Linked DNA regions of Homo sapiens. The protein of the gene in region 2 interacts with the protein of the main gene of each other region in a pairwise test. Each region holds a gene or a part of one and is shown on either strand. Other genes may lie near its edges.

The links.
Region 1: the proteins of ANKS6 (region 2) and VAMP4 interact in binary tests that used the Homo sapiens proteins (3 or more experiments, as listed by UniProt).
Region 3: the proteins of ANKS6 (region 2) and BET1 interact in binary tests that used the Homo sapiens proteins (3 or more experiments, as listed by UniProt).
Region 4: the proteins of ANKS6 (region 2) and AGTRAP interact in binary tests that used the Homo sapiens proteins (3 or more experiments, as listed by UniProt).

What each region holds. Positions count from the first base shown.
Region 1 is NC_000001.11:171,717,739-171,725,770, forward strand, and holds part of VAMP4 (vesicle-associated membrane protein 4), read right to left. Parts: intron 1,484-8,032; coding exon 1,433-1,483; intron 1-1,432. UniProt on the Homo sapiens protein: Involved in the pathway that functions to remove an inhibitor (probably synaptotagmin-4) of calcium-triggered exocytosis during the maturation of secretory granules.
Region 2 is NC_000009.12:98,793,185-98,801,415, reverse strand, and holds the start of ANKS6 (ankyrin repeat and SAM domain-containing protein 6), read left to right. Parts: upstream 1-4,860; 5' UTR 4,861-4,924; coding exon 4,925-5,283; intron 5,284-8,231.
Region 3 is NC_000007.14:93,993,552-94,001,583, forward strand, and holds part of BET1 (BET1 homolog), read right to left. Parts: intron 5,744-8,032; coding exon 5,619-5,743; intron 2,771-5,618; coding exon 2,714-2,770; intron 835-2,713; coding exon 679-834; 3' UTR 360-678; coding exon of another isoform or gene 343-359; 3' UTR 1-342. UniProt on the Homo sapiens protein: Required for vesicular transport from the ER to the Golgi complex. Functions as a SNARE involved in the docking process of ER-derived vesicles with the cis-Golgi membrane.
Region 4 is NC_000001.11:11,738,535-11,746,566, reverse strand, and holds part of AGTRAP (type-1 angiotensin II receptor-associated protein), read right to left. Parts: intron 2,035-8,032; coding exon of another isoform or gene 1,999-2,034; intron 765-1,998; coding exon 730-764; intron 441-729; coding exon of another isoform or gene 344-440; intron 1-343. UniProt on the Homo sapiens protein: Appears to be a negative regulator of type-1 angiotensin II receptor-mediated signaling by regulating receptor internalization as well as mechanism of receptor desensitization such as phosphorylation.

The DNA.
Region 1 (8,032 bases), on a different chromosome or scaffold from region 2:
CTGCACCCAGCTGTATCATTATTTTTGGTGTGCAGGACAATGACCCTGAGAGCTACTAACTTTGGCTACTCTTCCTTTTACTATATAAGTAATAAATTGCATCTAAAAGTGGCTTGTTGTATCTTTAGTCAAATAAGAGACTTGAAACAGTACAGATTCTCTCTTCTACTGGCCTCAAAGAAGCACCATGACATCTATAGCTGCAGGAAATAAATTCTGATAACTTCCTGAGTTGGTCATACCTGGTGATACCCTGATTGCCATCTTGTTAAACCTGAGCAAAAGGCTCACCTAAGAAGTGCCTGAACTCCTGACCCAAGGAAACTGTGAGATGATAAATGTGTGTTGTTTTAAGCTGCTAAGTTTATGGTAATTTGTTACATGGCAATAGAAAACTAATACACCCAGTCTAGTACCTGTAATCATTTATTGGTTCTTTGGTTCCATATCTCAAAATCCATTAGTTAGAATTAGGCTAAGTATGGAAATATTTCTTCACACCAACAGCTACCTGAGTAAAGCCCAAGTATCTCACCAATAACTAGATACTTCATTATAGAACCCTTCCCACAATGTGCCATCTATACCCAGGCTTAGGGTAGTGACTATTATCCCTCCTTAGGTCTTGAACCTGGGCCATGCAGTTCACATTCCACAGTTAGTCTTTACAGCTTGGTCAGTTTCCAGAGCCTTCCCTCAAGTGACTCACTGCTCTGTCTATTCCTTCTCCCCTCCAGTCAGGACTCATATCTTTCCGATATCAGACACATTGATTACAGCATATTATACTCATCTATCACCAAATAATATATACCTCAAAGGTTTTAAACCACAAATTAGCCATAAAACTTAGTTCAATATATGGGTTATGATAAATAAGAGATATGAAAAAATTCTGGAAGTAGATAAAAACATGCAGTACATCAACAAATTAAAGCTATTATATTACCTTTGTTATCATTCTGAAAATAGGAATCAAGCTACAGATTTAAAACCAAAATAGACCTTCAGACTATGCTAAATAAATGGATTTGACATAAGGTAATCAAGTCATAAAAAAACCAACAATCCTGCATTTCCTTAGCTATAATTCTGAGAAAATAAAATGAATTAGGTTTTTATAACCCAGCAGTTATATTTAGTCTTCATCAGGGGTCAACAACTTTTTCTGTAAAGGACCAGACACTCAGCAGATATTTTAGATTTTGTGGGCCATAAAATGTGACACAGCTTTGTCACAACTACTCAACTTTGCCATTGTAGCTTGAAAGTACCTATCGATAATATGAAAACAAATGGGCATGGCTATGTTCCAATAAAACTTTATTTACAAAAACAGGCTGCAGCCAGATTTGGCTCACAGGCTGCAGTTTGCCAATCTCTAGTCTACACAGAAATATGATTATCATTTAAACAAATGAACAAAACTTACTGCTTAATTTTATCATTTCTAGGTCCAAATCTTGGTCCAGATGGTCCCCTTCTGAAAACAAGTACATACCAAGTACATATTAGTAGTGACAGGATTAAAACAAAACAAAAAAAAGATAGAAAGTATACACAAATACAAACAATCAAGCTGAACTCTAAACATGGATCAGTTATTTATCATAAGGGACCACATTTTACTGATACTGGTGAAACTGAATAATAGGTAATCATGTCTTTACTTCATTGGCACTTATTACTAGCCACAATTAAGCTAATTCTTCTGCATGTTAAAACTTTCAGAGAAATTAGGGTTTATATTATCTTATATAACAAACTTACACAGAATTTGTTCTGATCATTAAACTCTGAAATATCCTAACTACTTAACTGCTAGTGAATATTAATATCTTTATGGTCAACTGTAGAACTAAAAGCGCAATTCATCTTGAATTTAGACTATAATGAAATGAGGAAACTACAAAGTGAACTGCCGATTGACAAAGATGGATATAGAGAAAAATTCATTGAAGACACTAACAATTTTAAGTATGTTTTTGATTATTCATCTTAAACTTATCAACATAGCAAAAGGGAAATGCAAGATATTAAGAAAATTTTAACATTACTCAGATTATTATCTCCTTATTGTAGTTGAGTGTATATCACACCTTAACCAATCCATTTTAATATTCTTGAAATGAAAACATTTGGTTATTTAAAGTAATCATGATTCTTCCGGAGATACAGAATAAATAAGACATAAACTACAAAACTCAAAAGAAACCAGGTTCTTAGATTTCTAGACATGGCAATTTCTAAAGGAGGTGAAAAAATACAGCAATTGATAAAAAAATTTTGGAAAAAAAAACTGTTTACTGAAACTTATTTAACATAATGTATAAGTGTGAATATATCATCTTGCCTTAGTTCCTCTAAGCTTTTTCCTTAAAGTCTTTTAAGCTCCAACTAAGCCTCAGAATACTGGAACAGTATTCCATTCCAAAGTGATGTTAAACATTGAATTTCATAGAGAAAACTAATATTCTGAACCAGAGGCCATTCCTAAAAACTAGGCAAGAACTTACAAGAGCTGGTCAACCGAAAAACAAAGAAAAGCAGTCATTAAATGAGGAAACTATAAAGTGAAATAGAATCTGAAAAGTACTGAATTAAAATGATCCCCACTACAGGTTAAAAAAAAAGCAGGAGCTATGTCTGTTTCATCTATCAAGTAACATGAGACTTCAAAATACTTATAGAAAAACACAAAATGAAAAGCTGGTTCTTTGAAAATTAAAACTTGATAAACTTCTAGCCAGACTGATTAGGAAAAAAAGAAAGAAGGCATAAATTAGTAACAGGAATGGAAGAGTGAACATCACTACAGACAAATGTACCATGGTTATATAAGATTTATTAACAGAAGCTAAGTGAAGCGTAGATAGGAACTCTCTATACTATCTATGCAACCCTTCTGTGGGTCTAAAATTATTTTTAAAAAATCCCCCAAAGAAAATTCCAGGACTAGATTTGTTCAGTTGTCAATTCTACCAAACATTTAATGAAGAAAAAATAAGAATTCTATGCAAACTATTCTGGAAAACTAAAAAAGACAGAACTTTCCCAACTCATTATCCAGGGCCAGTATGAACCTACCACGAAAACCAGATAAAGACACAACAAGAAAAAGACATAACTATCAACCAACCAATACCTCTAATGAACATAGATGCAAAAATTCTTAACAAACTCTTAACAAATTGATTCTAACAATGTTTTAAAAGAATAATACATGATGACCAAGTAGGGTTCATATCACAAATGCAACGACGGTTTAAAATTTCAAAATCAACATAATTCAACACATTCACAGACCAAAAAAAATGATCATCTCAATAGATACAAAATAAATGCTTGACAAAATCCAACGTCAGCTAATGATAAAAACTCTTCACAAACTAGGAATAGGAGGAAACTTCTTCAACCTGATAAATCTACACACAACAACAGTAACAACATGCAATGAAAATGAAACATAATATGAAAGATGAATGCTTCCCCTAAAGGAGATCAGGAACAAAGCAAGGATATTCCCTCTCACCACCTCTACTCAATATTGTGCTGGATGTTCTAATCAGAGCAATAAGCTAATAAAAAATAAAAGGCAAACATAGACGAGGAGGAAATAAAACTGTCTTTATTTGCAGAAAGCATAATTGTTCTATGTTGAAAATCCAGTAGGATATATAAAAACACTACTAAAACTAAGTGGGTTTGGCAAGATTGTAGAATACAAGGTTAATTTACAAAATGATATTTATACTAGCAATAAGTATGACATTTTAAAATTTTGAAACACCATCTGAAATGTCATTTTTAGTAGCATCAGAAATTATGAAAATCAATGTGCAAAAATCACAAGCATTCCTATACACCAATAACAGACAAACAGAAAGCCAAATCATGAGTGAACTCCCATTCACAATTGCTTCAAAGAGAATAAAATACCTAGGCATCCAACTTACAATGGATGTGAAGGACCTCTTCAAGGAGAACTACAAACCACTGCTCAACGAAATAAAAGAGGACACAAACAAATGGAAGAACATTCCATGCTCATGGATAGGAAGAATCAATATTGTGAAAATGGCCATACTGCCCAAGGTAATTTATAGATTCAGTGCCATCCCCATCAAGCTACCAATGACTTTCTTCACAGAATTGGAAAAAACTACTTTAAAGTTCATATGGAACCAAAAAAGAGCCCACATTGCCAAGACAATCCTAAGCCAAAAGAACAAAGTTGGAGGCGTCACGCTACCTGACTTCAAACTATACTACAAGGCTACAGTAACCAAAACAGCATGGTACTGGTACCAAAACAGAGATATAGACCAATGGAACAGAATAGTGCCCTCAGAAATAATACCAGACATCTACAACCATCTGATCTTTGACAAACCTGACAAAAACAAGAAATAGGGAAAGGAATCCCTATTTAATAAATGGTGCTGGGAAAACTGGCTAGCCATATGTAGAAAGCTGAAACTGGATCCCTTCCTTACACCTTATACAAAAATTAATTCAAGATGGATTAAAGACTTAAATGTTAAACCTAAAACCATAAAAACCCTAGAAGAAAACCTAGGCAATATCATTCAGGACATAGGCATGGGCAAGGATTTCATGAATAAAACACCAAAAGCAATGTCAACAAAAGCCAAAATTGACAAATGGGATCTCATTAAACTAAAGAGCTTCTGCACAGCAAAAGAAACTACCATCAGAGTGAACAGGCAACCTACAGAATGGGAGAAAATTTTTACAATCTACCCATCTGACAAAGGGCTAGTATCCAGAATCTACAAAGAACGTAAAGAAATTTACAAGAAAAAATCAAACAACCCCATCAAAAAGTGGGCGAAGGATATGAACAGACACTTCTCAAAAGAAGACATTTATGCAGCCAACAGACACATGAAAAAATGCTCATCATCACTGACCATCAGAGAAATGCAAATCAAAACCACAATAAGATACCATCTCACACCAGTTAGAATGGCGATCATTAAAAAGTCAGGAAACAACAGGTGCTGGAGAGGATGTGGAGAAACAGGAACGCTTTTACACTGTTGATGGGAGTGTAAACTAGTTCAACCATTGTGGAAGTCAGTGTGCGATTCCTCAGGGATCTAGAACTAGAAATACCATTTGACCCAGCCATCCCATTACTGGGCATATACCCAAAGGATTATATCAAGGGAACCACCCCCGATAATTCAACATAGGACCTTTTCTATTTTCCCTAAGTGTCGGCTGGTCTGAGTAATAAAGGGAAAGACTACAAAAGAGAGAAATTTTAAAACTGTGTGTCTGGGGGAGACATCACGTGTCGGCAGGTTCTGTGATGCCCCCCTACGCCGCAAAACCAGCAAGATTTTGTTGTGATTTTCAAAGGGGAGGGAGTGTACTAATAGGGTGTGGATTATAGAGATCACATGCTTCACAAGGCAATAAAATATCACAAGGCAAATGGGGGCAGAGCAAGATCACACGACTGGGGCAAAATTAAAATTGCTAATGAAGTTTCGGGCACGCACTGTCATTGATAACATCTTATCAGGAGACAGGGTTTGAGAGCAGACAACTGGTCTGACTAAAATTTACTGGGCAGGAATTTCCTCGTTCTAATAGGCCTGGGAGACCAGGGCTTATTTCATCCCTTATCTGCAACATATAAGACACACATTCCCAGAGCAGCCATTTTAGAAACCTCCCCTAGGAATGCATTCTCTTTCTCAGGACTGTTCCTTGCTGAGAAAAAGAATTCAGTGATATTTCTCCTATTTGCTTTTGTAAGAAGAGAAATATGGCTCTGTTCTGCCCAGCTTTCAGGCAGTCAGACCTAATGGTTATCTCCCTTGTTCCCTGAACATCGCTGTTATCCTGTTCTTTTTTCAAGGTGACCAGATTTCATATTGTTTAAACACACATGCTTTACAAACAATTTGTGCAGTTAATGCAATCATCACAGGGTCCTGAGGCGACATACATCCTCAGCTTACGAAGATGACGGGATTAAGAGATTAAAGTAAAGACAGGCACAGGAAATCACAAGAGTATTGACTGGGGAAGTGATAAATGTCCATGAAATCTTCACAATTTATGTTCAGAGATTGCAATAAAGACAGGTGTAAGAAATTATAAAAGTATTAAATTGGGGAACCAATAAATGTCCATGAAATCTTCACAATTTATGCTCTTCTGCCATGGCTTCAGCCAGTCCCTCCATTCGGGGTCGCTGACTTCCCACAACGGATTATAAATCATGCTGCTATAAAGACACATGCACACATATGTTTATTGTGGCACTATTCACAATAGCAAAGACTTGGAACCAACCCAAATGTCCATCAGTGACAGACTGGATTAAGAAAATGTGGCACATATACACCATGGAATACTACGCAGCCATAAAAAAGGATGAGTTCATGTCCTTTGTAGGGACATGGATGAAGCTGGAAACCATCATTCTGAGCAAACTATCGCAAAGACAGACAACCAAACACCGCATGTTCTCACTCATAGGTGGGAACTGAACAATGAGAACACTTGGACACAGGGTGGGGAACATCACACACCGGGTCCTGTCATGGGGTGGGGGGAGGGAGGAGGGATAGCATTAGGAGATATATCTAATGTAAATGATGAGTTAACTGGTGCAGCACACCAACATGGCACATGCATACATATGTAACAAACCTGCACACTGTGCACATGTACCCTAGAACTTAAAGTATAATAATAAAAAATAAAAGAAAATACTTAAGGATCAATTTGACAAAGAAAAAAATACAACATCTGGACACTGAAAACTACAAAACACTGCTGAGAGAAATTAAGTACCCAAATAAATAAAAAGATATACTATGCTCATGGGTCAGAAAACCAAATATTGTTAAGATGTTAATTATCCCCAAATTCATCTATAGGTTCAATATAATCTCAACCAAAATTCTAGCAGGCTTGCTGGAAACTGACAAGATGATTCTAAAATTTATATGAAAATGCTTAGAGCCTCCAATAGCCAAAAGAACTTTCAAAAGGCAGTGCAAAGTTGAAGGATATACACTACACTACCTCACAACTTACTATAAAGTCGTAGTACTCAGGATAGTGATTACTATGGTATTGATGTAAGAAAGACACATAGAGTCCAGAAATAGAGCCACACATATATAGTCAATAAATTTTTATTGTGGTAAATATATATAACATATATTTACTATTTTAACCGTTTTTAAGCATACAGTTCTGTGGCATTAAGTAATTCACTTAATGAACTGTCATCACCATTCATCTCTAGAACTTTTTCATCTTTCAAAACTGAAACTCTGTCCCCTAACTTGTCATTCCCTTTTCCTCAAAAGCCCTGGCAAACACCATTCTATTTTGTGTTTCTATGAAATTGACTACTCTAGGTACCTCATATAAGTGGAATCATGCAATATTTTTCCTTTTATGACTGGCTTCTTTTACTTATCATAAAGTCTTCAAGGTTCATCCATGTTTTAGCATATGTCAGAATTTCCTTCCAAACTTTTTAAGGCTGAATAAATTCCATTTATGTATTCAATAGTGAGTTCCTGGGTGTAGAGGCTTGTGCTATTAATTCTAGCTACTCTGGTAGGGGACCTGAGGCAGGAGAATCACTTGAGGTCAGGAGTTCAAGACCAGCCTGGCCAACATAATGAGACCCTGTCTCAGTCAATCAATCAATCAGCAAACAATTAAAAAAAATGAGTTCCTTTTTGAGGGGTAGCTATTGCTCTAGTCTAAGGCTTTTCACCACAAGTAGCATTGTAGGCAATTCACTTTGTGACTCTATAGCAATCTTGTCACCCATAGAAAATTATCTCCCCACATTATCTGACATTCTGCCAAAAATGATACTATTTTCTGTTACTGGATTTGCTGCTATCTATCCTGTAAGCTCTTTCTTCACTGCTTCTCGGGTTTCCATTAATTTTTTTTTTTTTTAGATGGAGTCTTTCTCTGTCGCCCAGGCTAGAATGCAGTGGCGTGATCTTGGCTCACTGCA
Region 2 (8,231 bases):
TCCTGGTCTCAAGCAATCCACCCCCCTTAACCTCCCAAAGTGCTGGGATTACAGGCATGAACCGCCATACTCGGCCTCAACTGTGCCTTATTCTAAAATGATTAAATGGGCTGGGAACAGTGGTTCATGCCTGTAATCCCAGCACTTTGGGAGGCCGAGGCGGGTGGATCACTTGAGGTCAGGAGTTCAAGACCAGCCTGGCCAACATGGCAAAACCCCGTCTCTACTAAAAATACAAAAATTAGCTTGGTGTGGTGGCGGGCATCTGTGATCCCAGCTACTCCATAGACTAAGGCAGGAGAATCGCTTGAACTCAGGAGGCAGAGGTTTCAGTGAGCCAAGATTGCACCACTGCACTCTAGCCTGGATGACAGAGTGAGACTCCATTTCAAAAAATATAAAATAGAAATAAAAATTAAATGATTAAATAAATTATGGTACGTCTGCTGAATGGTGTTTCATGCTATCATTTATTTATTTATTAAAATTTTTTTGGAGATGGAGTCTCGCTCTGTCGCTCAGGCTGGAGTGCAGTGGTGTGATCTCGGCTCACTGCAACCTCCACCTCCCAGGTTCAAGCAATTCTTCTGCCTCAGCCTCCCAAGTAGCTGGGACTACAGGCACATGCCACCATGCCTGGCTAATTTTTTTGTATTTTTAGTAGAGACAGGGTTTCACCGTGTTGCCCAGGCTGGTTTCAAACTCCTGAGCTCAGGCAATCCGACTGCCTCAGCCTCCCAAAGTGCTAGGATTGATTACAGGTATGAGCCACATCGCCGGGCCGCAATCATTTTTTTAAAATGCAGCAGTCTGTATTTACCTACATGGAAAGGTGCCCAAGACATTTGTTAATGGAAAAAGAAAAAAAAAAGCAAGATTCAAGAATAGCATGCGTAGTATGAACCCATTCATTTACAAAAAAAGTAAATTATCCATTTGTTAAGGCTTGGAATGCAAGTGACAACAATGCTGCTCAAAATAAACCTCACCAAAAAGAATGTGGGGAGGGATTTTCTAACTTAGTCTCTTTCTATCACTTGGTTTTGCTTTCTTTTGTGGTGACTTCACTCTTAGGCAGGCTGTCTTCAAGTGGTGGCAAAGTGAGCACCAGTTTGGCTGACATCCTGATAGCTGGCAACCTCAGCAGAGAGGGCCTCATTCTCAATTGCTTTAGCAAAAATCCTGGGCTGGGCTGGGCACAGTGGCTCATGCCTGTAATCCCAGCACTTTGGGAGGCTGAGGGAGGAAGATCACTTGAGGTCAGGAGTTTGAGGCCAGCCTGGACAACGTGGTGAAACCCCGTACCTACTAAAAATACAAAAATTAGCCGGGCATGGTGGTGGGTGCCTGTAATCCCAGCTACTCGGGAGGCTAACGCAGAGAATCACTTGAACCCAGGAGACAGAGGTTGCAGTTTGTGGGGTGCAATTGTGCCGCTGAACCTCAGCCTGGGAGAGAGAGTGGGACTCCGTCTCAAAAAAAAAAAAGTCCTGGGCTGAAGCCAATCAGGATATGTGCTAACCACTGAAGCACACAGACTGTGAGTAGGGAAGAAAGGCTTCCCAAAAGAAAAAGGGTGTCCAGAGGGAATATTTCATAGCAAACACTTGTTATCGTTTTTGACTGCCCAGCATCTGAACCCCCTTCCTACATTTGGGAGTGCCCTACCTTCTGAAGCAGAAACTACCTCCCGCTATTATATGAGCACATGACCCAAGTTGGGCCAGTCAGGCACTGTCACCTCAGCCTCTGAATCTGAAGCCAGGAACACCAAAAAGGGCCTGAACCAACCCCATCTTCCTACAGGGTGCAGCTGCGGCATGAGATTTGGGTCATTGTTCCTGGCTTTGGGGCCTCCAGAACTGGTTCTCAGGCTCTCATGGATCTGTGAGCTACAGAAGAACCTTGTACTAAATCCTGCAGCTTTTCCAGCACCTAAAACAGTGTCTGGAAATGGCAGGCACTCAATACATATTTGTTGAAAATGGAAAGAGAGTTGGACTCGATGTCAGAAGACCTGAGTCCTACTCACAGCTCTCCTGCAGAATAGTTGTGGAGTCTTTGGCAAGACACAACCTCTTTGTGCCTCGGTTGCCTCCTCTGCAACCTAGGGATGATCATCTGGGCCCTCCCCGGTGGATGGCAGGCGTGCAATGAAGATCAAACGTGGGTCTCCAACTTTAGCATGCATCAGAATCACCCAGAGGGCTTGTTAAAATATAGGTTGCTGAACCCACACCCAGAATTTCTGATTCAGTAGATCTTGGGTAGGGCCAGAAAAATCTGCGTTTGTAACAGTGTTGCAGCTGGTGATGGTGCTACTGCTGTGTGGGACACACTTCAAGGACCGCTGATAAAGAGAGAGAAGGTATTTCATTTTCTTTGTGACCATTGTAAATGAGGTTGTGTTCTTAATTTTGTTCTCAGCTAGAATGTTATTGGCATATCAAACTGCTATTGCTTTTTATACATTGATTTTCTGTCCTGAAACTTTACTGAATTTGTTTATCATTTCCAGGAGCCTTTTGGCAAACTCTGTAGGGTTTTCTATGTATAGATTCATACTCTCCGCAAAGACAGAGTGTTCGACTTTTTCTTTTCCTATTTGAATGCCTTTTATTTCTTTCTCTTACCTGGTTGTCTGGCTAGGACTTCCAGTACTATGTTGAATAGGAGTGGTGAGAGTCTTCTTCCAGCTTTTGCCTGTTTAATATGATGTTGGCTATGGGTTTGTCATAGATGGCTGTTATTATTTTGAGGTATGTTCCTTCAATGCCTAATCTGTTTTGAAGATTTTTATTATAAAGGGATGTTGGATTTTATTGAAGGCCTTTTCTGCATCTATTGAGATGATTATATGGTTTTTGTTTTTGATTCTGTTTATATGGTGAATCACATGTATTGATTTGCGCATGTTGAGCCAACCTTGCATTCCAGAAATAAAGCCTACTTGATCATGGTGAATTGACTTTTTGATGTGCTGCTGGATTCTGTTTGTAGTATGTCATTGAGGATTTTTGCAGCTATGTTTTTCAGGAATATTGGCCTGAAGTTTTCTTTTTTTCGTTGTGTCTCTGCAAAGGGCATGAACAGACACTTCTCAAAAGAAGACATACAGGCAGCCAACAAACATATGAAACAAATGCGCAACATCATTAATCATCAGAGAAATGCAAATCAAAACCACAATGAGATATCATCTACACCAGTCAGAATGTCAATTATTAAAAAGTCAAAAAACAATAGGTGCTGCTAAGGCTGTGGAGAAAATACACTGTTGGTGGGAATGCAAACTAGTTCAGCCACCGTGGAAAGCAGTTTGGAGATTTCTCAAAGAACTTAAAATAGAACTATTTGACCCAGCAAACCTACTACCAGGTATATACCCAAAGGAAAATAATTCATTCTATCAAAAAGACACCTGTATATTCATTGCAGTGCCATTTACAATAGCAAGGGTATGGAATCAACCTAAGTGCCCATCAACAGTAGATTGGATAAAGAACATGTGGTACAGAGCCAGATGTGATGGCTCACACCTGTAATCCTGGCACTTTGGGAGGCCACAGCAGGTGAATCACTTGAGCTCAGGACTTTGAGACCAGCCGGACAACATGGTAAAACCCTTTCTCAACCAAAAATACAAAAAATTAGCCGGGTGTGGTGGCACTTGCCTGCAGTCCTAGCTACTCGGTAGGCTGAGGTGGGAGGATTGCTTGAGCCTGGGAGGCAGAGGTTGTGGTGAGTAGAGATTGCACCATTGCACTCCAGCCTGGATGACAGAGCAAGACCCTGTCAAAAGAGAGAGAGAGAGAGAGAGAGAGAGGGAGAAAGGGAGGGAGGGAGGGAGGAAGGAAGGGGGATAGGGAGGGAGGGAGGGAAGAGAGGGAAGGAATGAAAGAAATGTGGTGCATATACACGATAGAATATGATGGAATACTACGGAATACTATGCAGCCATAAGAATGAACGAAATCATGCCCTTTGCAGCAACATGGATAAAGCTGGAGGCCATTATCCTAAGCGACCTAAAAAGAACAGAAAACCAAATACTGCATGTTCTCACTTATAAGTGGGAGCTAAACATTGAGTACACATGGACACAAAGATGGGAACAACAAACGCTGGGGATCGCTAGGCCAGGGAGGGATGGAGGGGACTCTGGGCTGAAGAACCTCTTGGTGGGTATTATGCTTACTGCCTGGGTGACGGGATCGTTGGGACCACAAGCTTCAGCGTCGCGCAATTTACCCATGTAACAATTTACCCATGTAACAAACCTGTACCCTTTAATCTATAATAATAGTTGAAATAAAAGGTGGGGGAGAGAGAGAGAACAGGAGGCGCTTTTAGCCCCAGCAGCCTGGCCCAGATGAAGGAGCGACATTAAGGGCACCGCAGGACACTGTGAGGAAACAATCCGTTCGTTCCTTAATTCAGCCGCTTCCTTATTCTAGAAGGGCAGGTTCAGTGCCAGGGGCTGCGGTGGGGTCAGCGGAGCCCGCTAGTAAAGTCAAGGCCCACGCAGCTGCGGACTCAGACCCGGGCCCAGGGCCCTGACCACAGCGTGAAGAGGGGATGGCGTGGCCGCTCCCACCTCTGCCCTGACAGGAAGTTTCTGGAGCCCCGGGACAGGGCGGCGAGAGGGCGCCGAAGAGGCAAAAGGGAACACGCGGGTCTGCGGCGGGCGCTCCTCTGAGCGTCCCTGGACTCCCGAATACGGGCACTGGAGGTGCGCAGCCCCGGCCCTAGCGCGCTCCCGGCACACAGCAGGCGCGCGGCCCTAGCCCCGGCGCGCTCCCGGCACACAGTAGGCGCGCGGCGCGGGCGGGTGGCCGGAAGGGGGCGCCTGCGGGCGGTATCCGGGGGCGGAGCCGACGCGGCCGGCGGGGCGGACGGGAGCGGGCCGCGCGTGGCGGCGGCGATGGGCGAGGGCGGGCTGCCCCCGGCCTTCCAGCTGCTGCTGCGCGCGTGTGACCAGGGCGACACGGAGACGGCGCGGCGGCTGCTGGAGCCGGGGGCGGCGGAGCCAGCCGAGCGCGGCGCGGAGCCGGAGGCGGGCGCGGAGCCGGCGGGGGCCGAGGTGGCCGGGCCCGGGGCCGCAGCGGCGGGGGCAGTCGGGGCTCCGGTGCCCGTGGATTGCTCGGACGAGGCGGGCAACACCGCACTGCAGTTCGCCGCGGCCGGGGGCCACGAACCGCTGGTGCGCTTCCTGCTGCGCCGCGGTGCCTCGGTCAACAGCCGCAACCACTACGGCTGGAGCGCGCTCATGCAGGCGGCCAGGTGAGGCGGCGGGGCCCGGGGGCCCGGGACCAGAGTGGTGCCCGGCGCTGGCCCGAGACGCGGTCCCCGGCGGCCGGATGCCCCGGGAGGTGAAGAGTTAAGGACTCCTTAGAGTTGGAATGGTAAACTTTGAGTAGTCTTTTGTAAACTTTGAGCATAGACGTGGAAACACTTTTGAATTAACATAAAATCAGATTCTTAGAAATTTTGGCCTTTCAGAATAGAATCTGGAGACAGCGAATAGAATTGTAGAGACTTAGAACCTTAGAGATTTAATTCATTTCTTATTGCAGTAAGAGTTTCCTCAGAACCTGCCTTCCCTTCCTGGCTTGGCGTTGAGGGTGCTGCGAGACCCAGGCAGAGTCCCCACCCAGGGCATTGGTGGGCAGGCCAGGCAAAGGAACGAGCTTGACCGGAAAGGTTTGAGTAGCTGTGGGGCAGGTGACCCATTTTGGAGACGTGGGGGAAGGTTTCTGGTAGAAAAGATGTTTATATCCACGTGGAGACCTGCGGATACCTGAGAATTAGCCAGGACATTACAAGTGGGCTGTGGGAAGGCATGATGGGAGGCCCATGCAAAGGCTTGGGTGCACGAGCTGGTAGGACTGGTAGAATGAGGTATGCGTAGAATGTATGAGTAGAATGATGTACTAGTCCTCCCTGGAGAGAAGGCAGATGCCAGGGAGTTGGGGGAGTGTGGGAGCTGAGAAACGCTAGCTATCCTAGGGTGCTAGGGAGTCATGGAAGGTGCTAGGGAGTCATGGAAGGTTCTAGGCAGAATGAGTGACAGGATGAGAGTTACGTTTTGGAAAAATTACTTTCCTTGAAGTGTGAGAATAGATTAGATACTCTAGGGTAAGCTAGAGTCAAAAAGGCTGGTTAGGTAGAGTTTGCTGCAGTCTGAGTGAGAGGTGATGGTGGCCTAGACCAGAATGGAGACAGCGGAGGGAGGGCACCCAGATGAATTTGTGATATATTCAGGGAGTAGATCAGCAGGAGTTGACGACTGGCCCTTGGGGAGGGGTTAAGAGAGACAGCAAGGATGGCATCTAGAGATCTGGCTTCTGTGAAGCCTGCCATGATATCTCCCTGTTCTCTGGTCCCTCCGCAGCAGAAAGGCCTCTGTGGTAGCATCCATCACACCATGTTAATGCTGACTGGCTTCCTCAGTACCCAAACCTGGCCACACATCAGAATCACCAGGATGCTTGTCTAAGTGCAGATTCCTGAGTTCCTTTTCTGGAGATTGTGATTTAGAAGGCCCAGGGCAGTGAGGGGAGTAAGAGACAGGGACTCTGTGTGAGAAGAGGCTCCCCAGTGATTCTCTTGTATGGTAGGTTTGGGAGCCACTGATGTGTTATGTGTGTCTCATCTCTGCAATCCACCAAGTGCGTGCACAGGGGCCCTGGTGAGCCCCCTGAGGAATTTACTGAGTGAGGTTTGTGACTACAGCACTGACATGCCTCAGAGTGTCTCAGAGACCCCAGATCATCAGTTTTAACCAAGTTCTGCAGGATAGTCTTGAGCCTGGGTATTTTAAAATGTGCTGTTCCTCAGTTGGTGTGACACCGACTCTATATTCAGGTAGCATCTCTGCCTGTGTTGAGTTGTGCTCCAGCTTTCTGCTGCGTAATTCATAAGAAAAGGTCAAGTTGAGGAGTAGTATATATGGAAGACTTCCAGAAGGATGTACAGTGTGTCTGTCCCTCACATCGGGGTAGGCAAATGAATGGCCTGTGTGCTGACACCTTCCAGCCTTGTGCTCTTCTTCCTTGGATCTGGATACGCCCCCAGAATCCTGCTCAAAACCACACCCCTGGCAGCCACCACGCTGGGTCTGAGCAAGCATCTATTTATCGTCCCAGCTCTCTGTGTGGATCAGGCCAGACTATTAGACACCCTGTGCCTTTGGTCTTTTGTGGGTGTTTTAGTATTAGAAATGGTGACCTTAGTGTTTTTTCCTGTTCTTTTTTTTTTTTTTTTTGAGACGGAGTCTCGCTCTGTCACCAGGCTGGAGTGCAGTGGCGTGATCTCGACTCACTGCAACCTCCGCCTCCTGGGTTCAAGCGATTCTCCTGTCTCAGCCTCCGGAGTAGCTGGGATTACAGTCACGTGCCACCACGCCCAGCTACTTTTTGTATTTTTAGTAGAGACCGGGTTTCACTGTGTTGGCCAGGCTGGTCTCAATCTCCTGATTTCGTGAAACGCCCACCTCGGCCTCCCAAAGTGCTGCGATTACAGGCGTGAGCCACCGCGCTGGGGCATGTTTTTTCATGTTCTTAAAATAATAGGTAACCTTTGGCCAGGTGCGGTGGCTCACGCCTGTAATCCCAGCACTTTGGGAGGCCGAGGCGGGCAGATCAGGAGGTCAGGAGATCGAGACCAGCCTGGCCAACATAGTGAAACCCTGTCTCTACTAAAAATACAAAAATTAGCTGGGCGTGGTGGCACGGGCATGGTGGCACGCACCTGTAGTCCCAGCTACTCGGGAGGCTGAGGCAGGAGAATCGCTTGAACCTGGGAGGCGGAGGTTGCAGTAAGCTGAGATCGCGCCACTGCACTCCAGCCTGGCGACAGAGCGAGACTCCATCTCAAAAAACCAGAACAAAACAAAACAAAAAACAACCTTTATTGAGCACTGACTTTCTGTCAAGCACTGTGCTAAGTGCTTTAAATGAATTAAGTCATTCAATCCATACAAAACCTTAGGAAGGAGGTACTATTGTCATCCTCATTTCATAAATGAGGAATTGAGGAACAGAGAAGTTAAATAACTTGCTCAAGTAACATAGCTACCAAGTGGCGAGTCAGATTCACACCTAGGGAGGTGGCTCCAGAGCCTGTGCTCCCAGCCATGAATCCTGTAACTGATAGTTTCCCTCTTGGTGTTGGTGCCTGGAAGCGGCTTGCCAAATTTGCCAGAGACTTCTCTCCAAGGGACAGGGTTG
Region 3 (8,032 bases), on a different chromosome or scaffold from region 2:
TCAAGAGAATTCATAAAGTTAATATGAAATAATAACTATACTGATACACATGTGCAATGGGCCCTACCAGAAATATGCCAAAATAACAAGTTTTATTTAAAGAATGAGGTCTTTGGGCAGAAAGAAATGAGGGGTCATTATCATCAAAAATTATTAGGAAGATTGTAGGTAAAAAGAAATCAGCCTACAATTTTAACTAAATAAAGGAGGAGAAGGGAGTATATCATTACAGTTGATGCAGTTAGGAAAATTCAATTACCATTTTACCACAAACTGGCTGACTACTTCAAGAGCTCAGAGTCAGGCTCTCCAGGCATTCTGTTACTCTCCCACTAAGTTTCCTTACATGGGACATAAACCTGCATTTATGATTACAACAAAATATTATAATGCTATTTAATCTGACAGTTGGCAAACAATAGAAAAACAAACTGGAAATTAGTGGAGCCACACCCTCTCACTACCCCTGAAAATAGGGGCTAAAATGAGTCATTAAGAAACAGTATTCAAAGACCACTGTATTAACTAATGTGATTTATAAAATAAGCAAAATTCAGCAATTTTCAATGGAAAATGCCACAGTATTTGAACACTAGGAATGTTTTGATGCTGATTTTTATCAAAGTGGTACTGCAAGCCATTAAGTTGGAACAAATTCCAAATTCACAATTACATGCATCACCTCAGTTTAATAATCCAATAAATGATAAAAAAGACAAATAAAGAAAACAGCATCATATAGCACAGCAGCTTTGTTTGGCTCCCTCTGGATAAAATCTTCAGTTTGCCCATAGTTTTACCTAGAAATCCAGTTGTGGAATCAAATTGTGAATCCTATCAGAGATAAAGGCAAATAAAATATCACAGTTAGATTCTAAGAGTCTACATATGCATATCCAAGTAATTGAATAACTGTTACCATAGTACATTTGTAATGACAGTTTTGTGTTTAATCAATTCAGGAGCCTGTTGATAACCTTGGATAATCAGCCTGATTTCTCCATGCAAAATACAGTAATACTCTCAGCGAATAAAAAGCTCTTTCATTGTCCAATAAACACTTCTTTCAGCTCCACAGAGTAATTCAACAACTCAAAACTATTTAGGTGTTATTCCAATTATGTGGATAAAAAAAATTAACAATAAATGTAAGTACTTTGTGCATTATCACACAGATTTTTTTCCCCACTTTTTGTTGTGCCATTGCTCTCCAAGGTCAAATGGTTGACTGCTACCCAAGTAGAGGATTTCATCCAAAATGTAATACGGTTAGCAGTTAAATGTACTTTTATTTACTTATTTATTTATTTAGAGACGGAGTCTCGCTCGTTGCCCAGGCTGGAGTGCAGTGGTGCAATCTCAGCTCACTGCAATCTCTGCCTCCCAGGTTCAAGTGATTCTCCTGCCTCAGCCTCCCAAGTAGCTGGGACTACAGGCGCACGCCACCACGCCCAGCTAATTTTTTTGTATTTTTAGTAGAGATGGGGTTTCACCATGTTGGCCAGGGTGGTCTTGAACTACTGACCTCAGGTAATCCGCCCACCTCATCCTCCCAAAATGTTGGGAGTATAGGCGTGAGCTACCATGCTAGGCCTTGGACCTTTACTTTTAATATCCTTTTGTTTAGACAGCTGACTTTGAAGTAGAGTCTATTAAGTTAAGAGAATATCATATAGAGGTAGTAAAATGTGATAAGGACTATAAATATGGATGGGGAAAAACTAACGTATTAAAACATAGCTGGAAAATCCTAAAGATGAGAGAGGCTTAGGTAGGGACTAGAAATATTACACATACTTTCATAGAAATTATAATATCCTGAGATGTAAAAGCCCTGGCATAATAATAAATATCCTTTGTATAGCTCAGTGTCTATGTGGCTCATATACTTTAGATCTATGGATCTTCACCATGGTTATGCATCAGAATCACCGGAGATGCTTTTTCATGGTTATGCATCAGAATCACCAGAGATGCTTTTTTCAAAATATTTACATCTAGATCCCTCCTCACGAAATTCTAAATCAGTATATTTAAAGACAGAATCAGGCATATACATTTTTAAAGAGGTCCCTAGCTTATTATAGCGCACAAGCTTAGCAAGAACATTGCTTTTGATGCCAAATTCATTTTTGAATAGCACAATTTTAAAAGCACATGGAACCAGAGAAGGTTCAGAGAAGCTTGACATTCAAGATAAACGTTAACAAATGGAAGGGGACTCTAACAAGAAAAGGTATATGTTGTTAGAGAGAAAAGGCTCTGGGCTGTTCAAATGTATGAGCACTTTTTTCATAAGTGATCCTTAGGAAATCAAGCAAAAGAGTAAGTATCCATTAAGTGAACGACATTTAGTTGGTTGGATATCAAGTGCCTTTTGATTGCTTGGTTAATAAATTACTAGTAGTCTCTACTATTGAGACTTCTAAGACTACTCAAAATAGTCATTTGTCTTGTTTTTAACAATCATTCTAAAAACAGGATTAAAGATATATTGGCTTCCACTTGTTCCTCCCACTTACATGCGTAAGACGAGATGAAAAATGCAAAAGCATGGCAAAATAAACCTTATAGTTATTCCAAACACATTAGATACAAATGGACGGGAATCAAGGACTTACGATCTCTGTATTTCAAAATGAATAAAAGTTGAAATTCTATTATTTGCGAATATTAGATCAAATTTCTTAAAGTTAAAATCATAACCACTTACCATTTCAGCTAATAATTTATTCTGGGTTTTAACTTCATGGCCTATTTCAATGGAAAGCTATAAAGAAGAAGGTATACACAGGATTACTCACATAAAAGTATTCAAGTGTTATAAAGTAAAAATAATGTCATTCTAAGCATACACATTTTCTGAAATGAAACGGTCTTCTAGACACATAAACTCTCTTTTTCTGATACTTTTTCTACCAAGATCAATAAAAAATAAATTTGGAATTTCTACTCCTCCCAATTATGGACATTTCTTCTTTCCTCTTTATTTTAATTTCATCTTAATATTCAATTCCATCTTTTAATTTGGTATGTACTACTTCTCTCTGATTCTCTTAACCTTGTATGCTTTTATATCTTTATTATATTCCTACAAAAGCTACAAATTCCTACAAATATCTGTATATTTCCTTCTTACATTTTATTTATTATATTTTATAAATTATATATATATATTTTAACTTATTTTAGGTTTGGGGGTACAGGTGAAGGTTTGTTATACAGTTAAACTCATGTCACATGGATTTGTTGTACGGATTATTTCGTCAACCAAGAATTAAGCCTAGTACCCAACCTTATTACATTTTGAAAGATCTAGAAGTACCCATACAACCAATTCAAATCTAGACAGAAGTATTTAATATTTTCCTAATGAAATGTTACATTACTTTAAATATGTCTAAACTGATTTTTCCTTAGTTTAAAGGTTTTTGCTTTAAAATATGATAATAAATTGAAAAAAATAAATATTAGTGTTACTTACTTCCTGAAGCTCTGAAGAAAAGAGCCATAGCTTACAAAATACAATACTATAGCTAATTATGACAACTATTCAAACCAAAATCTATCTAATACTTTATAGGACAGATTCATCAAAGGCTTCACTTCCAAGATATTTAAATAAATAGAATCATCTACTGAAAATCTTGGTAAATCACTGCAAATATTGTTCTTCATCTGTGTGAAAGCACATGGGATAATACTGATACAAAACCATACTAGAATTCTATAGATCAGAACATGAGCTTTCCTCCCAGATTTAACAACTCAGAGATAATAAAGTAACTATAAAGCTAGACTGCCCACATTACTCAACTTCTATCACTGTCATTCATGCCAAGGAAAAATATTTCCAGGACATCACAACTTTCTTCTAACAAGTAATCTAAATTATCTACATTGGGGGGGTTTTTAAAGGCATTTAATTCTTAAGTCCTTCCAAGTGTTGTATTTTTAAAATTAACATTATACAATATTACTTAGTTCATAAATCAACTTTAGTTTAATATGACTTTGAAAACAATCCTGTTTCAAAATCTAAAGGTCTCCAGACTGAATGTAATTCGATTTTCCAAAGACTATATTGAAATACCAATTAAGTTTTATCAACATGGGCTTCTACTGAATGCTTTATAAGTGAACGTCATGTTCATTATAATGCAGTATCAATCACATATATTATTAAAATCATCTTCGTGTAATTCTTTGGTTCAATACAAATTTACTCAACACCATTGATAAGGAATTATGCTAAGTGCTATATAGAATATAAAGTAAGTACAATAGAAAACCTGCATTCTGGTAAATTCCTTTTACATACAAATAATGCCAATGCAAATCACTATGAATAAGTGCTACAGAAATGGCACAAATGGTCTTATGTTCATAAGAAGAAAAGTTACTTTTGGATGTGGTAATCAGGTAAAAGTTTGGAGGGAGGGGGTGCAATGAAGTGGGGCGGATGTGGATAAGCAGCACTTCAGTTGATCTAAGAAGGAAGTGGAGGCTTAAGGCAAAGGGATAGTGTGATATGGGGGTGGGAAAGTGACAGCATACAGAGGACACAAAGTGTAATTTGTCTAGCAGGAAGCACATACAGATTCTGGAAGTGTGAGAGATAAGATCTCAAAAGCTAAGGCCAATTTTTGAAAGATCTATCTGATTTAATCAAGCTACGAAGCATGAACTTTATTAAATCATGGAAGGACGCTGAAGACTTCTGGGAGTGCAGGATGCAAGTTTTAAAATATTCTAAACGAGGACTGTGGCAATGATTATATAGCTCAGATCATAATGTGCAAAAAAACAGGAACAGATAGGTTAAGATGTTCTTCCAATAGTTCAACTAAGAAAACCAGGGGATAGGCCAGGTGCGGTGGCTCACACCTATAATCCCAGCACTTTGGGAGGCCAAGGCGGGCGGATCACCTGAGATAAAGAGTTCAAGACCAGCCTGGCCAACATGGTAAAACCCTGTCTCTGCTAAAAATACAAAAATTAGCCGGGTGTGGTGGCGGGCACCTGCAATCGCAGCTATTTGGGAGGCTGAGACAGGGGGATTGCTTTAACCTAGGAGGCAGAGGTTGCAGTGAGCCAAAACTGCACCATTGCACTCCAGCCTGGGCAACAAGAGCAAAACTCCATCTCAAAAAAAAAGAAAAGAAAAGAAAACCAGGGGATAGTATTAGAAATAGAAAGGCAAAGATAGAAACATCAGAAAGACAGTGTAAGACTCAGTGACTGAAATGAAGTACAAAGGTAGAAATAAGAAAGACCAAGATTTATAGCTTAGAAGGCTAGATTAAAAAAAGCAGAAGAGCTACTTGGGGGTGGAAGATGGACAGCTCTGTTTGAGACATTACAGCAGACAGCATACAGTATACAAAAAAGAGCTGGAGATTTTTCTTAAGTATTAAAAAAAATCTATCTTTTGATGTGCCACATTTTTTAACTTACTCAAAGCACAGTCTAAATTTTGAGTGTACTTTGACCTCACAAAACCACAGTATCTGAGTAAATGAATTCCTTAGGATGACGTCAATAAGAATATATAGTTTATAATTATATGTATAGAAATATATGAATTAAAACACATATAATATTTGTTATATACTTACAGATTTTATAGCAGTTACTTTGCTTCTCAGACTTTCAGTGAGCCTCTCATTTTCTTCTTCACAGGCACTATACCCACTATTAGCATAGCCATAGTTCCCATAGTTGCCAGGAGGTACTCCTTCACCTGCAAGGATCAGAGTCACAAAGGTGGTTCTAGAGAAGCCACTTTTGAAACACTGTTAGTTAGGAAAGAACTGAAAAAGACCCCTGGAGGGCCTTGCAAACCACATATGTCTCTAATATTCATACTCCAAATGAATTTAAAAAATAAATAACCAAACAGAGATCAGACCAATTCTTTCCATTACTCTCTGTTAACCAAAGAATATTCAGTTCAGTTCATTTTGATACACATTTCTGGATTGCTTATTGATTGTCCAGAAGATACAAAAATAGGTACTAATACACAAGAATATTCAGGATACATTCCCTGCTCAAGAGAAACATATATTTTAATGAAAGTTCTAAAAGCAGTAACATCATCTACCCATTGAAAAAGCGTGGCTGTGAAGAGGAAGGGAAAAGTGGTTAATACAGAAGGACGGGAGCTCATAGCGGCGAGGGTTCTTTACTGGCATCTCTTTCTCTTAAATAGACAGTTGGACAGGAAAGAGCCAAAGCAGGGAGGGGGCAAACTGAAGCTCTAGGAAAGAGACACAATAACTTATGCAGAATGCTAGCTGAGAGTCAAGAGGGAGATTCATTTATTCTTCAACATATATTTGAAGAATTACCATGTATCAGATCCACTGTTCTTTCTAGGTGCTACTTTTATGGAACTCTAAGGGATAAGAATGTACACCTCCCTGCCTAATATAGTACTTCATAGTCATCAGGCTATCAAACAACAGATGGAGTGGGCCTTAGTGAATACATATATAAATATGTTGGGCGATTAACAGGAAACGGCATAGTTCAGGGTGTTAGTTAACTATACTTTTTTTTTTTTTTTGAGGTGGAGTCTCGCTCTGTCGCCCAAGCTGGAGTGCAGTGGCGCGATCTCGGCTCACTGCAAGCTCCGCCTCCCAGGTTCAGGCCATTCTCCTGCCTCAGCCTCCCGAGCAGCTGGGACTACAGGTGCCCGCCATCACACCTGGCTAATTTTTTTTTTTTTTGTATTTTTTAGCAGAGACAGGGTTTCACCCTGTTAGCCAGGATGGTCTCGATCTCCTGACCTCATGATCCATCCGCCTCGGCCCCCCAAAGTGCTGGGATTACAGGCGTGAACTTTTTTTTAACATAATTGTTGCCATCAATTTTCTCAGTAAAGGGAGAAAACGGGCTATCTGCTGAAGAATGGGTGATCATTCAGAATATACAGTAAGGAGAATGATGGAGGAAAGGGACCGGGACTGCACAGGATTACTAAAGATAAAACAAACTTGTTTGAGGCAATATACTACGGTGGCTTCAATCGTCCCAGGTGTGTGGTTTTTTTCTGCAGAAGAGTTCATCGGCCTGAGTTAGTCCAGGAGAAGGTGGATGGTTGGACTAATCTATAGTTGGAAGCTTATAATATTGAGGTTGCAGAAAAACGGAGCCCCAAGAGGTTGAGACTGCTTGCCAAAAGAGCGGTTGAAGATCTGGATTATGGGGATTAGATTGGACAGATATTAAAGCAGATTCAACAGTGACTTGAGAATGTGGGGAAAGGAATGATATCAAAACTAGAAGTCTCAGAGCCTGCTGCACACAGTTGCTTGCACCTATAATCCCAGCTACTTGGGAAGCTGAGGGAGGCAGGATCACTTGAGGCCAGGAATTTGAGACCAGCCTGGGCAACACAGCAAGACCTCATCTATTAAAAACAAACAAAACTAGAAGTCTCCATATGCTCAATGAGCAGATGCAGCAGCAGTGACAGGAGGTAACAGCACTGATCACTGAAGGACAGTCAAGGTGTGAATAGGAACTTCTTTCAAGGCACAATAGAAATTTCATTTTCCCTATGAAGCAAAACTCTCACTGATTTCTTACAGCTCTGATTGTATGTAACACTAATATTGCACTCTGTACAGTACTATAAGGGAAGAGAATAAGTTTGTTTGACTCAACACTGTATGTCCCCCCATAAACCTACAAACACATACACACTGTAAGGCACACTCAATGAATACATGATGTGAACTAATTAATGAAAAGAATCTGAGTTCACTGTTATTGAACTTTGAATGTGCATACCTTTGTCCAGAATGGAATCATATGCTTCTCTGAAGGCAAAGACAGTATCTCATGCTTCCATATCCTCCCTGTACCTAATGAGTACTTTATATGCAGCAGATACCTATGCAATCTCCACCACCACAAAAACCACAACAAAATATTGAAGAAGTATTTTCCAAACAGAAGAGAGTTGTACTATCTGAATTTTGCTGCTGACACACTATCCATGACACACTATCCATGAAGCTCT
Region 4 (8,032 bases), on a different chromosome or scaffold from region 2:
CTGCAAGGAAGACTCAGGGGGACAGGGACTGAGTCTACCTCATTTATTACCAAACCCACTGGGCCTTGCCTTCCCCTGCATGCAGCGGGCGCTTCCTAGATTTATAGGACATTCACTAAAGTGTAACATGCAGAAGACATGTGCAAGGCAGGTGTGGAGTGCCATTCGGTTCAATAGGTCTTTGAATAAACCATCTTATCTTTTGCTTTTAAGAAAGCAGGTGCCTGGGTCCCAGCCCAGAATCACCAACTCAGAATCTTGGGGAAGTGTGACTAAGAAATCTGTATTTTGGCCCTGCTTCTCAAGGTCGTGAATCATGATGGTTACAGTTCACATTACTCACAGCTGTTGCCCTGTGCGCTGCACTTCGAAGTTTGCAAAGTGCACAGGTGAGCTCAATGGTTTCCAGTCTTGGTTTGGCAGAGAAATGTCTCCAGAAGCTCAACAGATTAAAAGAGATGGTAAAGGTGAAAATCAAGCTGCAGTGCTGAGGCCTCACTGTGGGGCAGGCCCTGGGGAGCTCTGATGAGCACTTCCACGTCTCCCTCCCAGCTCCTGCAGGGTGTGCAATCCTTATGCCTATTGTACAGACGGAAATCAAGACCCGGAGAGGCAGAGCTGTCTGGCCCAAAGTGACCTGGTTAAAACACGGCAGAACCAGGACCTGACCCGGCTGACACAGACCCTGAGACCGCAGGAGACACACAAGATACCCACAGAGTCACTTACCAGGTTGTCAGCAGCCAGTGACCTAGGAGAATCACCTGTGGCACAACAAGGGGGAGAGAAGAGGTCTGTGAACATGACCACCACAGGGGCAGGAAAGCGTCGGGTGCAGAAAACACAGGACGCCCCTGCGCCTGGCACCTCTGAGGGCCTCAGTAATGTCTGTTGAAAAGGCACACCAGCAACTGCAGGTGGCCCAGGAGTGAAGGAGGAGGAAGAAAGCAGGCCAGGCCAGGGAGGGGCCGCTTCATGCCTTCACCCCTCCCATGGGGCAGCTGACACCCACACCCCTTCCAAGCGTCAGAGGCGTATGAACCAGAGCAATTCCATCTTGAATAGGAGCTGGGTAAAATAAGGCTGAAACCTAGTGGGCTGCATTCCCAGATGGTTAAGGCATTCTAAGTCACAGGATGAGACAGGAGGTCAGCACAAGGTACAGGTCATAAAGACCTTGCTGACAAAACGGGTTACAGTAAAGAAGCCGGCTAAAACCCACCCAAATCAAGATGGCCACGAGAGTAACCTCTGGTTGTCCTCACTGCTACACTCCCACCAGCACTATGACAGTTTACAAATGCCATGGCAACGTCAGAAAGTTACCCTATATTGTCTAAAAAGGGGAGGCATGAATAATCCACCCCTTGGTTAGCATACTATCAAGAAATAACTATAAAAATGGGCAACCAGCCTGGGCGCGGTGGATCACACCTGTAATCCCAGCATTTTGGGAGGCCGAGGTGGGTGGATCACCTGAGGTCAGGAGTTCAGGACCAGCCTGGCCAACATGGTGAAACCCTGTCTCTACTAAAAATACAAAAATTAGCCGGGCATGGTGGTGTGTGCCTGTAATCCCAGCTACTCAGGAGGCTGAGACAGGAGAATTGCTTGAACCTGGGAGGTGGAGGTTGCAGGGAGCCGAGATTGTGCCATTGCACTCCAGCCTGGGCGACGAGAGAAACTCCATCTCAAAAATAAGTAAATTAATTAATTAATTAATTTTTTTAAAAAGGGCAACCAGCAGCCCTCAGGGATGCTCTGCCTATGGAGTAGCCATTCTTTTATTCCTTTACTTTCTTAATAAACTTGCTTTCACTTTACTCTATGGACTCGCCCTGAATTCTTCCTTGTGCGAGATCCAAGAACCCTCTCTTGGGGTCTGGATTGGGACCCCTTTCCTGTAACACAAGGGTGGGAGGCTCCTTTGTGGAATGCAGGGAATCTGCTCTGAAATCAGAAGAGGCCTCGATGGGAAGCGGAGCGGTGGGGACTCACGTGAGGGTGATTTCTTGGGACACTGGAGCTGGCGCACTGTGGGGGGCAGAGGGGAAAGCAGCTGTTGTGGCTGGAGAGAGCGGGCAAAGGGAGGGTAGCTGGGGACAGGTAGGGGGGCCTGAGGGCCTCGGGAAGGAGCGTGGGCTTCATGCCAAGTGCAACGAGGGACACCACTGAGACTTTTCTACAGGGAGATAGCTTGGTATGCCTTATGGTAAGGAAAAACAACAACAAAATCCCCCTGGCTATTTTTCTGGATTTCTGCAATATTCTACTTTTTTCTTTTTAAATTTGGAGACAGGGTCTTGCTCTGTGGGTCAGGCTGGAGTTCAGTGGCGCCATCACAGCTCACTGCAGCCTCAAACTCCTGGGCTTAAGTGATCCTCCTGCTTCAGCCTCCCCAGTAGCTGGGACTACAGGTGTGTACCACCACGCCCAGCTAATTTTTGTTTTTTTGTAGAGACAAGGTCTCCCTATGTTAACCAGGCTAGTCTCAAATTCCTGGGCTCAAGCAATCTACCCACCTTGGTCTCCCAAAGTGCTGGGATTACAGGCAGGAGCCACTGCACCCAGCTACAATATTTTACCCTTTTTAATGTCCTCTGTGTCCTTAAAATGACAGCCTCCTCTCCTGGAACTGGTCTCTACTCCGGGACATCAACAAGGCCCTGACTGGAAAGCACATAGAAAAAGGGCAGATGGAGGCTGGGCACAGTGGCTCACGCCTGTAATCCCAGAACTTTGGGAGGCTGAGGTGGGCAGATCACCTGAGGTCGGGAGTTCGAGATCAGCCTGACCAGCATGGAGAAACCCCGTTTCTACTAAAAATACAAAATTAGCCGGGCATGGTGGCACATGCCTGTAATCCCAGCCACTCAGAAGGCTGAGGCAGGAGAATCGCTTGAACCCAGGAGGCAGAGGTTGCAGTGGGCCGAGATCGCGCCATTGTACTCCAGCCTGGACAACAAGAACAAACCTCCGCCTCAAAAAAAAAAAAAAGGAAAGAAAGAAAAAGGGCAGATGGGCTGGGCGCGGTGGCTCACCCCTGTAATCCCAGCACTGTGGGAGGCCAAGGCAGGTGGATCACTTGAGGTCAGGAGTTCGAGACCAGCCTGGCTAACATGGCGAAACCCTGTCTCTACTAAAAAGACAAAAATTAGCTGGGCATGGTGGTGGGCACCTGTAATCCCAGCTACTCCGGAAGTTGAGGCACGAAAATTACTTGAACCTGGGAGGCAGAGGTTGCAGTGAGCCCAAAATGGGCCACAGCACTCCAGCTTGGGTGACAGAGTGAGACTCCATCTCAAAAAAAAAAAAAGAAAAGAAAAGACAGATGCCTTGGGAGGGCAGGCAGCTGCAGAAAGAGCTTCCAAAGGGAAGGGACCCAGGCTGAGCACAATGTATGAGCGGGGCTCGGCCAGGCAAAGTGGGGCCAAGCCCCAGGCCCTGCATGGGTGGCGGTGGGCATGGAGATAACTGAGGTCGGGGTGGGGTGGCACAGAGACTTTGGGAGGCCAGGAGCCCCAAATTGGGAGCTTCAACGGGCCTGGTGGTCAATGAGGGCCCTAGAAGTTTACTCAAGGGATTGAGGGGTCAGGCTGGAAGGGAGAGATGCCACATGCCTGGGGCAGAGGCAGTGTCCTGGCGCAGACATGGGCAAGGTTTGCGAAGAAGGCCGGGGTTTCTGGCCTGGGTGGAAGGGCAGAAGGAGCCCTCACCACCTGCAAAAAAGAACTGTGGGCCAGGTCTGGTGGCTCACGCCTGTAATCCCAACACTTTAGGAGGTGGAGGGAGAAGACTGCTTGAGCCCAGGAGTTCGAGAACAACCTGGCTAACAAAGTAAGATCCTATCTCTACAAAAAATCAAAAAATTAGCCAGGTATGGTGGAGTACATCTATAGCCCCAGCTACCTGGGAGGCTGAGGTGGGAGAATCACTTGAGCCAGTGAGGTCAAGTGTACAGTGAGCCAAGATCATGCCACTGCACTACAGCCTGGGGGACAGAGCAAGATCCTGCCAGAAAGAGAAAGTAAGGAAAGAAAGAAAAGAAAGAAAGAGAGAAAGAGAAGGAAGAAAGAAAGAAAAAGAAAGAAAAGGAAGGAAAGAAGGAAGGAAGGAAGGAAGGAACGAAGGAAGGGAAAGAAGGGAAAGAAAGGACAGAAAAGAAAGACAGACAAACTCACTCTGGCAGCAGAGGAAAAAGCATTTCTAGAAGAGTTACTCTTGACCACACACCAACTATGTGCCAGGCCCTATGCCAACCGTCTCACATGACCTTATCTGGACCTCACAGCAGCCTCTGGTACTATTATTCCCATTTCACAGATGAGAAAACCAGACTCAGAGATAAATTATGTTGATCAAGACTCCACAGGTAGCAAGTGGCAAAACTGGAATTAAATTTCAAACTCGCCTCCAAAACCAGTGCACCCAACCTCCCCGCTGGGGGCGCAGGCCTTCAGCTGGGAACTGTTTGGGCTTGTGAGAAAGGTCCACACATGGGGGCAGATGGAATCCAGAGCTGGTGGCTGAGATACTTCACCTTTACCTCCAGGGCCCAGGGCCAGAGTGAACCACAAGGGGCCTGGCTCTGTGGCCCAAAAGAAATTCCTTTCTCAGCTCCAAGAGACTAGGAAAATAATTCTGTAAGGACCGATGCACCCAACTTTAAGATCTCGAGACTCTGACCAGGCTGAGTAGTGTGTTACAGAAGTCTAGCTCTAGAAGGAATCTTCGCCATCACCTCACCTACCTTCGTCTACTATTGAGCGCTTCCTATGTGCTAGGTGCCATTCTAAGTGCTTTCTGTATATAAATGCACTAAATCCTTACAATCCTCTGAGGTCTTATTATCCCCATTTTACAGCTGAGAAAACTGAGGCTCAGAAGGAAGTAACTTGCCCAAGGTCACAGAGCAGGCCAGTGGCAGAGCCAGGACTCAAACCCAGGCTGTGCTGTCCAGCCATTAGGCCTCTCCCCATTACAAAGATGGGGAAACTGAGGCAAGAGAGGTGTAGTCTTCCATGGATTTCAATCCCCAGGGGCTTGAAGTGATAAACGGTGTTAAGTTTCTTAAACATTTAGTGTCACCCAGCATCACTGGCACCTGCTTTTCATTCACCCTGGGGAGTCAGAGGTGTGCAGAGCAGATTCGGAGCTGCGCTCTCAGTACTGACCTCGCTAACCAGGTACTCTGCCCTAGGAATGGAGGTGCAGTGAACCCTCATCCCGAAGGAAAGCACCTGATTGAAGGAAAGCATCCTGAAGGAAAGCAAGGGAAAGGGCACCTGATTGAACAGCAGGGAGGCTGGGAGGGTTGGGGTGGTCAGGGGCTTCTCTGAGGAAGGGATGGGGGAGGCTGAGGGGGAAGAAGAGCATTTTGAGCAGGAGGGGCGGCACTCACAAAGGCTCTGTGGCAGAAGGGGGGCGTGGAACTTTCTGGAAACTGAACAGAAGCCAGTGTGGCTGGAGTGGAAGGTGAGGGGAGTGGAGGAGGGAGGGACAGGAAGTTGGGGGCAGGCAGGGCTGGGCATGAGGACGATTCTGATCTTTATCTTCAGAGCTAACCACTGTCCCCTCCATCTGATAGTAAACCCTGGACCACAGACAGGAAGGAACTTGCTCAGGGCCACACCGCAGAGTCAGCCACAGTGGTCCCAACATCCAGCTTTTAAAGAAGACACCGAGGAAAGAGACAGAGGGAAGGTAGCTCCCATCACCCCTTTCCTCCCCAAAATCGACACCTAACTCTTCCCACTCTGGGCTTGTTTTGGAAATGATCTTCATTTTCAATGCTCTCGCTCCTATGCCTAGACTGTACACAGAGTAGGTCTTTAATAAATGGGCCCTGCAGAGCCCTGGATTATTCCGGAAAGAATGGCAGTTAGCATGAAAGGCTGAGTCCCAGGGGGGCCTCTGATCCGCAGGATACCCTAAGGGTCATGCTTACAACCTATGAGGTAAAGGCTTTTCCTAGCGCTGGAAGGGCCTGTAATACAGAGTGAGCACCCAGCTGGGCCCACACCTCTGCCATCTCTGTTAGGGAAGAAAACAACGTAACCTGGAAATACTGCAGATCCTTAGCACACACACAGTCTCCTCTGCGTGACGTCACTTTGGTTTGATAAATATGAACAAAGTTAGCACCAGTTGCTCCTCTTAAGCCCCTGGGAAAAGAAACGTCCAGAAGCCTAAGCCTCCCCTGCCTCAGTTTCTTCATCTGTGTAACAGGAGGACACCCAGAGAGGCCTTAATGTGCAGGAAGACTCCAGGGAGAAACTGAGCCAAACGGGCCCTGCACTTCCTGGCAGCCCAGGGAAAGAGGGGCCAGTAACTGTCAGGACAAAACCACTGTCTTTTGGCCCTGGGGGAGCTTCCTGGTAGCCAAAGAGACACAGGATTCTCAGGTATGGCCTGAAAGAGGAGCTGGAAGCAGGGAAGGAACCTGAGCTAAACGGGTGGCAGGGCCAGGACCTTTCCCAGCTGGGCAGGAAGGACGGACCTGAGCCCCTGGACTCTCACTACAGTGCTCAGCCCAGGGGAGGCCGCCCAGCTCTTTCCCAGACAGGGGTCAATGGACCAAGGCAGCAGAGGGTCCCAGGATGCTATGCTGGAACAGGAAACCTGGGTGCTGGTCCAGGCGCCAAGGCCTCAGGCTCCTTTCTGCGAAACGGAGGCAGTACCCATTTGTCCCACGGGGGTGCCTCAACTGCCAGAGACAAGCATCTATCTGGACGGTCACTGTAAGTATCCGTTTACTAACTGTTAAATACCTATGTGGGGCAGGGATCCTGCATCATCAACGACAGCAGCAACTCCTGCTACTGACAAGCACCAGCCTGCCATGCATCTACACTGCACTGCCCCTAACTCATGTCATCCGTGTAACTGTATGGGGTAGAACTGAGGCTCTGAGAGATTAAGTAAATTGGCCCAATTCATAAAGCTTACAAACAACAGAGCCCAGACACAAATGTCAGAATCAATCTATCCAGCCAGAGTTTTTGTTTGTTTTTTTGAGACAGAGTCTTGCTCTGTCGCCCAGGCTGGAGTGCAGTGGTGCGATCTCGGCTCACTGCAACCTCTGCCTCCCGTGTTCAAGTGATCCTCGGTGCCTCAACCTCCTGAATAGCTGGGACTACAGGCGAGCACCACCACACCCAGCTAATTTTTGTATTTTTAGTAGAGGTGGGGTTACATCATGTTGGCCAGGCTGGTCTCGAACTCCTGACCTCAAATGATCCACCTGCCTGGGTCTCCCAAAGTGCTAGGATTACAGGTGTGAGCCACCACGCCTGGCCCAGCCTGAATTTGTAACCCTAATTCTAGACTACGTCCTGGACCATGGATCCATCATCCTAGGAGGTAGGGACTGTATTTAACTTCTTTTTACAATGAAGAAATAGATACTGAGAGAGTTCAGAAACCTACTCAAGGTCACACAGAAACCTACTCAAGACCTTGAATGCAGACCTGCCTGCCCCCAAAGCCTGTGCTCTGTCCACTGTGCTACACCGTCAGGATCTCGAAGAGCCGTAGAGGGCAGATGGAAATGAGGAAGTCTAACCTGGAGAAGGAAAGGCTGAAGAGAAACCAGCAGGGCATGCAGACCAAGACTTAAACCCTTTGTTTGCCACTAGAGGACCCATGGCGGGGTAGGACTTCCCAGAAATGGAATAAACTCCTACCAGTCCTGTGCAAACACTTGGTGGCCTGTTACACGTGCTAGTGAGATCCCCCAGGGTGGCCGGGGCCCAGGGACACCAGTCAGGGCTGCCAAGGATGGGAGGCAGAGTTGTGCAGCGGTTAACTTCGTGGGTACTGGAGGCAAACAGGTGGATCTGATCCTGGCTCCATGACTTTAGAACCTAGTGACCTTAGGCAAGTCACCTGACCTCTCAGAACAGCTGTTGGCTCTTCTGCAAAGAAGGGCAATACTGCCTGATTCAGTGTTGTTGTGTGGATCCAGTGGTACAGGGAGGTGGAGAGGTGTGGGAAGCGCTCCACACAGTGCCTGTGAGGAATTCAGCCCTCC